Homo sapiens: one gene and its partner. The protein of the gene in region 1 purifies or fractionates together with the protein of each later gene. This does not show direct contact. Each region holds a gene or a part of one and is shown on either strand. Other genes may lie near its edges.

Region 1 (3,655 bases):
GATATGTGGTTGCTTCCAGGCCAAAGCTCTTAGCCAGGACACAATTGGCCTTTCTCTCTTCGTCTACTGAAGAGACTGTGAAGGCACATTTTGAAATGGAGGTGCCATAAGATCAAAGCAACCTGGCTTGCTGAGCTAGTTGCTAAGCTAACACAGACTACGGCTGCCCTGGAGAGTCTCCTGGACATGGAACAAACTCAGTGTAAATGAGAATAAACTTTTACTTCACCAAACCAGTGAGATGTTGTTGCTGTTTGTTCCCATATACTGTTAGCTCCCAGTTCACCACTCCCATTTTTATGGCTTTTATATTCTAAACAAACATGCAATAAGTATCAGGTGGCCAAATAAATGATTGCATCAGAGCGATAGTTAGTTTATCTTTGAATTTTCCATTTGCCCCCCAATAAATTTACCTTTCTTTCTCTTTTAAACAAAAGAGAGCAAACATTTTGATGCAGAATTCATCATTATGACTTACTTTCACAGGTAGGAGGGCTTGGTCTCCAAACACCTATTGTTTCATTCTCCACAGTGCAAGAAATGGAGGCATGGCCCAAGAGTGAGAAGCGGGGGTCACAGCTGTAGGTGACAGAAAAGCCGTATGCGTAGAAATTTTCTTCACCGCTGTGCCTTCCATTCCTGATGTCTGGAGGAGGCTTACACTTGACAACTGAGGTAAGTGAGTGAAGAGAAAGAAATACTCAGCGAAGGCATCATGATAAATCTAAAATTCATGCAAATTCTAATGGAAGGTACACATACCTGTAAAGATGCACAGGGACTTTATTACCTAACAGAGTTTAAATTGATAGTCAAGTCAGAAGAGTCTTTACTTACTTTCACATTGTGGGAGAGGATGACTCCAGCCAACTCCTCTATCTTGGACTTCACAACGACTAGTGGTTGAGCCAATTAAGAAAAATCTGAATAAGATAGATCAAAGATTTTAATGGAATTCCTCCTACCCTAAATTAAATTAAAGAGGTCTGAGCAAATAGAATTGTTACTCAATATTAAAATAAGGAAATCATATGTTCTTGGATATCATTTCCCATTAAGCACTCCATTCAGTAAAATTTCATTACTGCAATGAGATGCGTGTGTTTTTTCCTTTGGACCCTCATTCCTTAATCTGTTACTGAGCATCTACTAGGGATCAGGAATGCAGTTCATCCAGAGCTCAAGCACAACAATAAAAGGCTGGCTTCAGCGTGTTCTGTGGTTGTCTCTGGGTGAGAGTACCAGCTAGATTACTGAGTCCACAATCTCCCCATCTTTGGCTTGAAGCTTCCTCTGACTTCCAGGTGGGTGTCTTATTCCCATACATCATTAGCTTTCAGTTCACCACTTCCATTTTTACGGCTCTTGATATGTCCTACTCTTTCCTCAGTTCGTCTTCCTGCCCTCTATCTTATGCTAACAGAAAAAAACAAAAGATATGAATGATTACAAATTGTAGCATCATCAAGGATATTGATAATCATCAATGATATCAAATTGTAGCATCATCAAGGAATAAACTTACAATGTGATAGAACACTAAAGCAAATGTCACCTTCAGCAATCTAAGAGCCTGTGGAATTTATTGAATAATAACTTCAAGAAAATATATCTCAACTACAACTACAATTAAGTATTTCTTTACTTTAAAATTTCTTTAAAATGTAGTTTTTCCAACCTAGCCCAGAGACTAAGTGCAAAATATTGTTTCTGGTTGTTTCAATGGGAACACCTTAGTGTTTCAACAGCATCTTAGTTCTGATTCTTTTCACTTTCCCTTATGGAAGCCATACACAATAAGGAAAACAGAGGATAAAAATGAGAAAATCAACAAAAATGAAACAAACGGAAAAGATAAGAGAAAACTAATAGATATAGGTAACAAGCAAAAGAGAATCAACATAGGCTTAATTGGATAACCTAAAGAAGGAATCCAAGTAGAACAAAATAGCTTTTTAAAAATTTGTTTCAGGCCAGGTGTGGTGGCTTACTCCTGTAATACCAGTACTTTGGGACGCTGAGGCAGGTGAATTCTTTGAGACCAGGAGTTCAAGACCAGCCTGGCCAATATGACAAAACCCCATCTCTATTAAAAATACAAAAATCAGCTGGGCATGGTGCTGCTCTCCTGTAGTCCCAGCTACTTGAGAGGCTGAGGTGGGAGGATTGCTTGAGCCCAGGAAGTTGAGGCTGCAGTGAGCTATGATCGTGCCACTGCACTCCAGCCTGGGCAAAGGGAGTGAGACCTTGACTCAAAAAATATATATATTTCAAGTAAATGTTACTAAAATAAAACAATACGTCAATCTACATATTAAAATTGCACATCACATAGTAGCAAAAAATTAAACCAAGTGATTTCTACCAAAACAACTAAGAGTAAAAGTATTAGGTTTCAAAGATAAAGAATAATAATTTAGATAGTCAAACAAAGATCAAGCCATATGAGAAGAAATTTCAGATCAGTAGTATTCACTAGCAAAAGATAGTGCAGCAGTACCTATAAGACATCCAAGAAAAGAAAGGATGAGCCAAGGACTATATCAAGCCCCATTATCTTCTAGGTATCAATGCCTCAGATATATTATCTGAACCTGCAAGAACTCAAAGAATAATTTTCACTTGGGACTTTTTTTTGGAAACCACCATAGGACAAACTACAGCCAACCAAGAGATGACAATGGCAACTTTAGCCAAAATAAACAAAAATGGTAGCAAACATTGTACATGCAGATCTAAGAAAAAACAAATGTGATTTTAAGTGTGACTGAAGGAAATATAAATGTTATATGCTCAGACAGCACTGAAATAGTATAACTAAGAAAAAATAGAGACAGGGAAGAGAGGGTAAAATAAATTCCCTTATTGCCTGATCATTTGCAAAGTTGAGAATGAAAGCAACCATAGACACATATGAATATTTCACATTAATGTTAAATACAAAATAAACACTAAGATAATACAAATGATACAAATTTACTGGTAGGGAAGATAGAAGGGGTGAAGGAGGGGTAAGAATACAAGATAAGTTTATTGTTGTTTATAACAAGGAACCAATTTAAACTGTCTAAAGATAAAGAGGAATAATGATATTATATAAATTTAAATGTATATAGGTCACCACTAGAAACAAATTTTGAACCTTCCTAAATACCACCATATATTTTTAATAGAAAATAAATATACACATACATATATAACAAAATATGAAATAATATGATAAAACCAAGTCTATAAGTATCACTCACATCAATAAATGTAAACTCCTAATGAAAGAAAAACAGCTTTTAATTGGAGAAAATTCAGCTCTGTTATATACAGGAGACAAACCTAAAAGTGTTTCAGACAGATTAAAAATAAAAGACAGCATAAAATTATACCAAGCAAATTCAAAAGAAAACCAAAGATAATAATTTTAATATCCCATAAGTTGGACATCAGAACCAAGATTATTAAATGACACACAATGGGTACTTTATATGTTAAAGATTTTGATTTTCAGTGAAGAGCTATGAATCTTTATGTAGCAAAATATGTATGTAGCAGCAATTTTAATAAAACAGAAGTATATGAGACAAGAAAAATAATCAAAATATGCTAATTATCATTAAATTATTTTATAATGGTTAAAATAATTATAAAATTATTAATT
Region 2 (3,655 bases), on another chromosome or scaffold:
AGTTGCCTTGGCTCCATGGTCAATGCCAAGGGACAGGGCTGAGAGTGAGCTCTTGAGGGAAGAGACACACAGCAATCTTGGGGGTGGGGGGCAGTGGTGAAGGGGCAGGAAGGCTCTGAGCCTAGGCCTCCAGGTGGGGGCAGTGGGGAGGTAGGGTTTGCTGAGGAACTGAGTACCAGATTTGGGGAGCATAAATAAAGATGAGAGGTCAGGAGCTAAAGCTGGAGATGGGGCTGGACTGAGACTTAGGCTGGCTGCGACAGAGGAGATCTCATCCTCTCTCCACGGGTGCTAAGCCTCTTCCACTGTCTTATCAGATGCCATTCTGTTTGCTCACCTCCCATGAGGAGAACTCCCATGTTCCCCCAGATAAATCTTCTGAAGAATCCTGATTGACCTCCCTGAATTGCTCTCACTGAACTGAAATGCACTTTGAGTCAACTCAGAGCAAGTCCAGGCCTTCTGCCCACGAAGTGTCTTCAAAGATGTGGATTCAGTGAGCAGTATGCCTCCCTGGGCCTGCTCCTGTTCCAGCCCAGAATGTTTTGCAGGCTCCTCATAGGACAGACGATGAGCTGTTCCCTGCTCTGGGGCAGAGGGTGCATGACTCTATACTGATTGTGCCTTTATTTCAGGTCCAACTTGATGGGCACCAAGTTCACTGTTTATGACAATGGAGTCAACCCTCAGAAGGCCTCATCCTCCACTTTGGAAAGTGGAACCTTACGTCAGGAGCTGGCAGCTGTGTGCTACGTGAGTCCTAGGTTCGGGGGTCTCTGATTTCCAAGGTAGATATGAAATCCAGGACTTGATGCCTGATCTAGGGGCTATCCCATCCATCTTAGTGGGTAGACAAGGCTGTGTGGAGAGGGGCTGTCCTCTGTGGAGTGTTCCTGGCCTAGGACAGGGGCTCTGGCTCTCTCCTCCTGACTTCAGAGCTCACACCACAGCCGGCCATCTGCTTGGGGAGCTCAGAAAACCAGGCCTGGCTCTCTGCAGTCCAGGCCAGGAGTCTCTTAGACAGAAGGAGACGGTCGCCCTGGGTTCTTGTCTGTGCATTTCCCAGATCATCCCTCTGGCATGCCAGGTTCTACATGGATTACACGGCACTTTGTCATCTCACTGAACGTTCAACCTAAGAGGTAGATCCTATTTTCTTTATAGATGAGGAAACTGAAGCTCAGCTGCAGATGTCACACAGCTCAAAAACGACCAAACTGGAATATAAATATAGGGGATTACTCTACCCCTTTGAACCTTTTTCTTCATTTTTAAAATCAGGGGTGGGTATCTCATCAACCTGGGCATGGGCACTTCTTGGAGGCCATCAGTAAGTAATCCACAGCTACTTTGTATGATCCTGTGGTGCCACCTGCTGACCAGTTTTGGGGAGGCAGCCTGAGTCTTCAAGTTCTTACTGAGCTCCAACTAAGCATATTGTTTGAGGCACTAAGGATATAGTAATGAACAGACATAAATGTATACCTTTATGGGACTTAAAGCCCTAGCAGGGCAGACAAGCTATGAAACAGATCTATCAGTGAAGTAAGTATGTTCTTTATAAACACTAAGAAGAAAAAGTAGGGGAGGGGAGATAAGAAATGTCAAGGTATGTGTGAGAATTTCAGAATGGCAGGGAGGGCGTCACTGAGGTAGCTCTTGAGTAAAGACCAGAAGGAAGTGAAAAACAGCAGTGTACGTGTCTAGGGGACACAGTGAGGACAAAAGTCCTGAATGCCTGGCATGAAGAAGGAATGGAGTGGATACCAGGCAGTAAATGGTGAGGAGAGGAAGGTCATGGGGCCACGTGCAGGTGAAGTCACATCTCCAGCTTTAACTTGGAGTGAGCTGGAGAGCCACTGGAGAGTTCTGAGCAGAGGAGAAAGATCATCTGACTTAATGTGCCTGAGCACTGGCTGCTGTGTTGAGAACAGATGGTGGGAAGGAGGAATAGGAGGGCCAACAACAGAAACCAGGAGTCCAGGCAAAGGCTGTTAGAATGATCTTGGTGAGAGAAGCTAGTGGTGAAAAGTGGTGGAAGTCTGGGTATAATTGGAAGGTGGAGCTGACAGAAACTGCTGATGGATTAGACGTAGGATGTAGAAGAGAGGACTCGAGTGTGACCAAGTAGTTTGCCGGAGCGAGTGGAAGAACAGCATTGCCGTGAGCAGAAGCAAGGATGACGCATAAGAGGAGCTAGTTCTGGCAGGGTAGAGACCCAGGGGCTCAGTTCTGGCCGTGTTAGGTTTAGAGGGATGTGTGTTAGACTTCGGAGTGGAGATGGTGGGAACTAGCTCTTCCTCTTTATTCCCGTCCCCCCCACCTTCTCCAGTAGGTAAATAGACGCCTCAGGTGGCCAGTGTTGCGTTCTCTTTCCCAGGAGACAAACGTCTTAGGCTTCAAGGGGCCTCGGAAGATGAGCGTGATTGTCCCAGGCATGAACATGGTTCATGAGAGAGTCTCTATCCGCCCCCGCAACGTGAGTGTCTACCCCTTCCTCCCCTCTTTCCCCATCATCCTAGTCTCTGCATGAGCTTCTAAGGGCAGAACTCCAGCTGATGTGTGTATGTGGAGGGGTACCATGTGAGAAAGCCCTGGAGGTCTAGGGAAATCCAAGGACCCCCATTCCCGGGATAGATCCCTTTCTGGGGTGGTCATGGTGCCAAAGGCCTGGGCCTGGCTCAGGTGAGGCTGCCCTCCCAGGAGCATGAGACACTGCTAGCACGCTGGCAGAATAAGAACACGGAGAGTATCATCGAGCTGCAAAACAAGACACCTGTCTGGAATGATGACACACAGTCCTATGTACTCAACTTCCATGGGCGCGTCACACAGGCCTCCGTGAAGAACTTCCAGATCATCCATGGCAATGACCGTGAGTGTTTCTGTCCCTACTCATTATGGTCCGTAGGATACCCAAGGCCCTTAGCGTAGGGTTCAGCCCACCTAGCCCTGCCTACACTGGCTAGAGTTTAAGAATGTGAGCTATACAGCTAAGGTTAGATGTATGGAACTTTCTAACCCTAATGACTGGGAGGTCCTGGAAGAACCTTCTTTGCAGCCCTGGTCCTAGATTCTGTGTATTCAACGGAGTCTCAGGCACGGGAACACCCTTTAAAAGGACTTTTCCTCTTTTCTGTCCCCTGGTGTTCACATGCATCTTACTTTGTCCTTTGCCATCTGCCACCTCTTTCCTGCCACTTCTCCCAATTGGCCTTTGTTTTACTTCCCTTTGTGATTCCCCTGGCATCTCTGCTTCTCACTTGTTCTTCCCTCATGTGGTTTGGGTGTCTGTCTATCCTTCCCTGGCTCTACCATTCCTGTCCTGTCCTTTTCTCTGTCTGTGCCTGTGCTTGGCCCCAGCGGACTACATCGTGATGCAGTTTGGCCGGGTAGCAGAGGATGTGTTCACCATGGATTACAACTACCCGCTGTGTGCACTGCAGGCCTTTGCCATTGCCCTGTCCAGCTTCGACAGCAAGCTGGCGTGCGAGTAGAGGCCTCTTCGTGCCCTTTGGGGTTGCCCAGCCTGGAGCGGAGCTTGCCTGCCTGCCTGTGGAGACAGCCCTGCCTATCCTCTGTATATAGGCCTTCCGCCAGATGAAGCTTTGGCCCTCAGTGGGCTCCCTGGCCCAGCCAGCCAGGAACTGGCTCC

What was found.
Region 2: the proteins of C4BPA (region 1) and TUB purify together in Homo sapiens (affinity purification with mass spectrometry; one large-scale study listed by BioGRID and IntAct). This does not show direct contact.

What each region holds. Positions count from the first base shown.
Region 1 is NC_000001.11:207,121,193-207,124,847, reverse strand, and holds part of C4BPA (C4b-binding protein alpha chain precursor), read right to left. Parts: intron 927-3,655; coding exon 841-926; intron 674-840; coding exon 482-673; intron 1-481. UniProt on the Homo sapiens protein: Controls the classical pathway of complement activation. It binds as a cofactor to C3b/C4b inactivator (C3bINA), which then hydrolyzes the complement fragment C4b.
Region 2 is NC_000011.10:8,098,123-8,101,777, forward strand, and holds part of TUB (tubby protein homolog), read left to right. Parts: exon of another isoform or gene 1-635; coding exon 636-753; exon of another isoform or gene 754-1,217; intron 1,218-2,380; coding exon 2,381-2,479; intron 2,480-2,703; coding exon 2,704-2,875; intron 2,876-3,363; coding exon 3,364-3,497; 3' UTR 3,498-3,655. UniProt on the Homo sapiens protein: Functions in signal transduction from heterotrimeric G protein-coupled receptors. Binds to membranes containing phosphatidylinositol 4,5-bisphosphate. Can bind DNA (in vitro). May contribute to the regulation of transcription in the nucleus.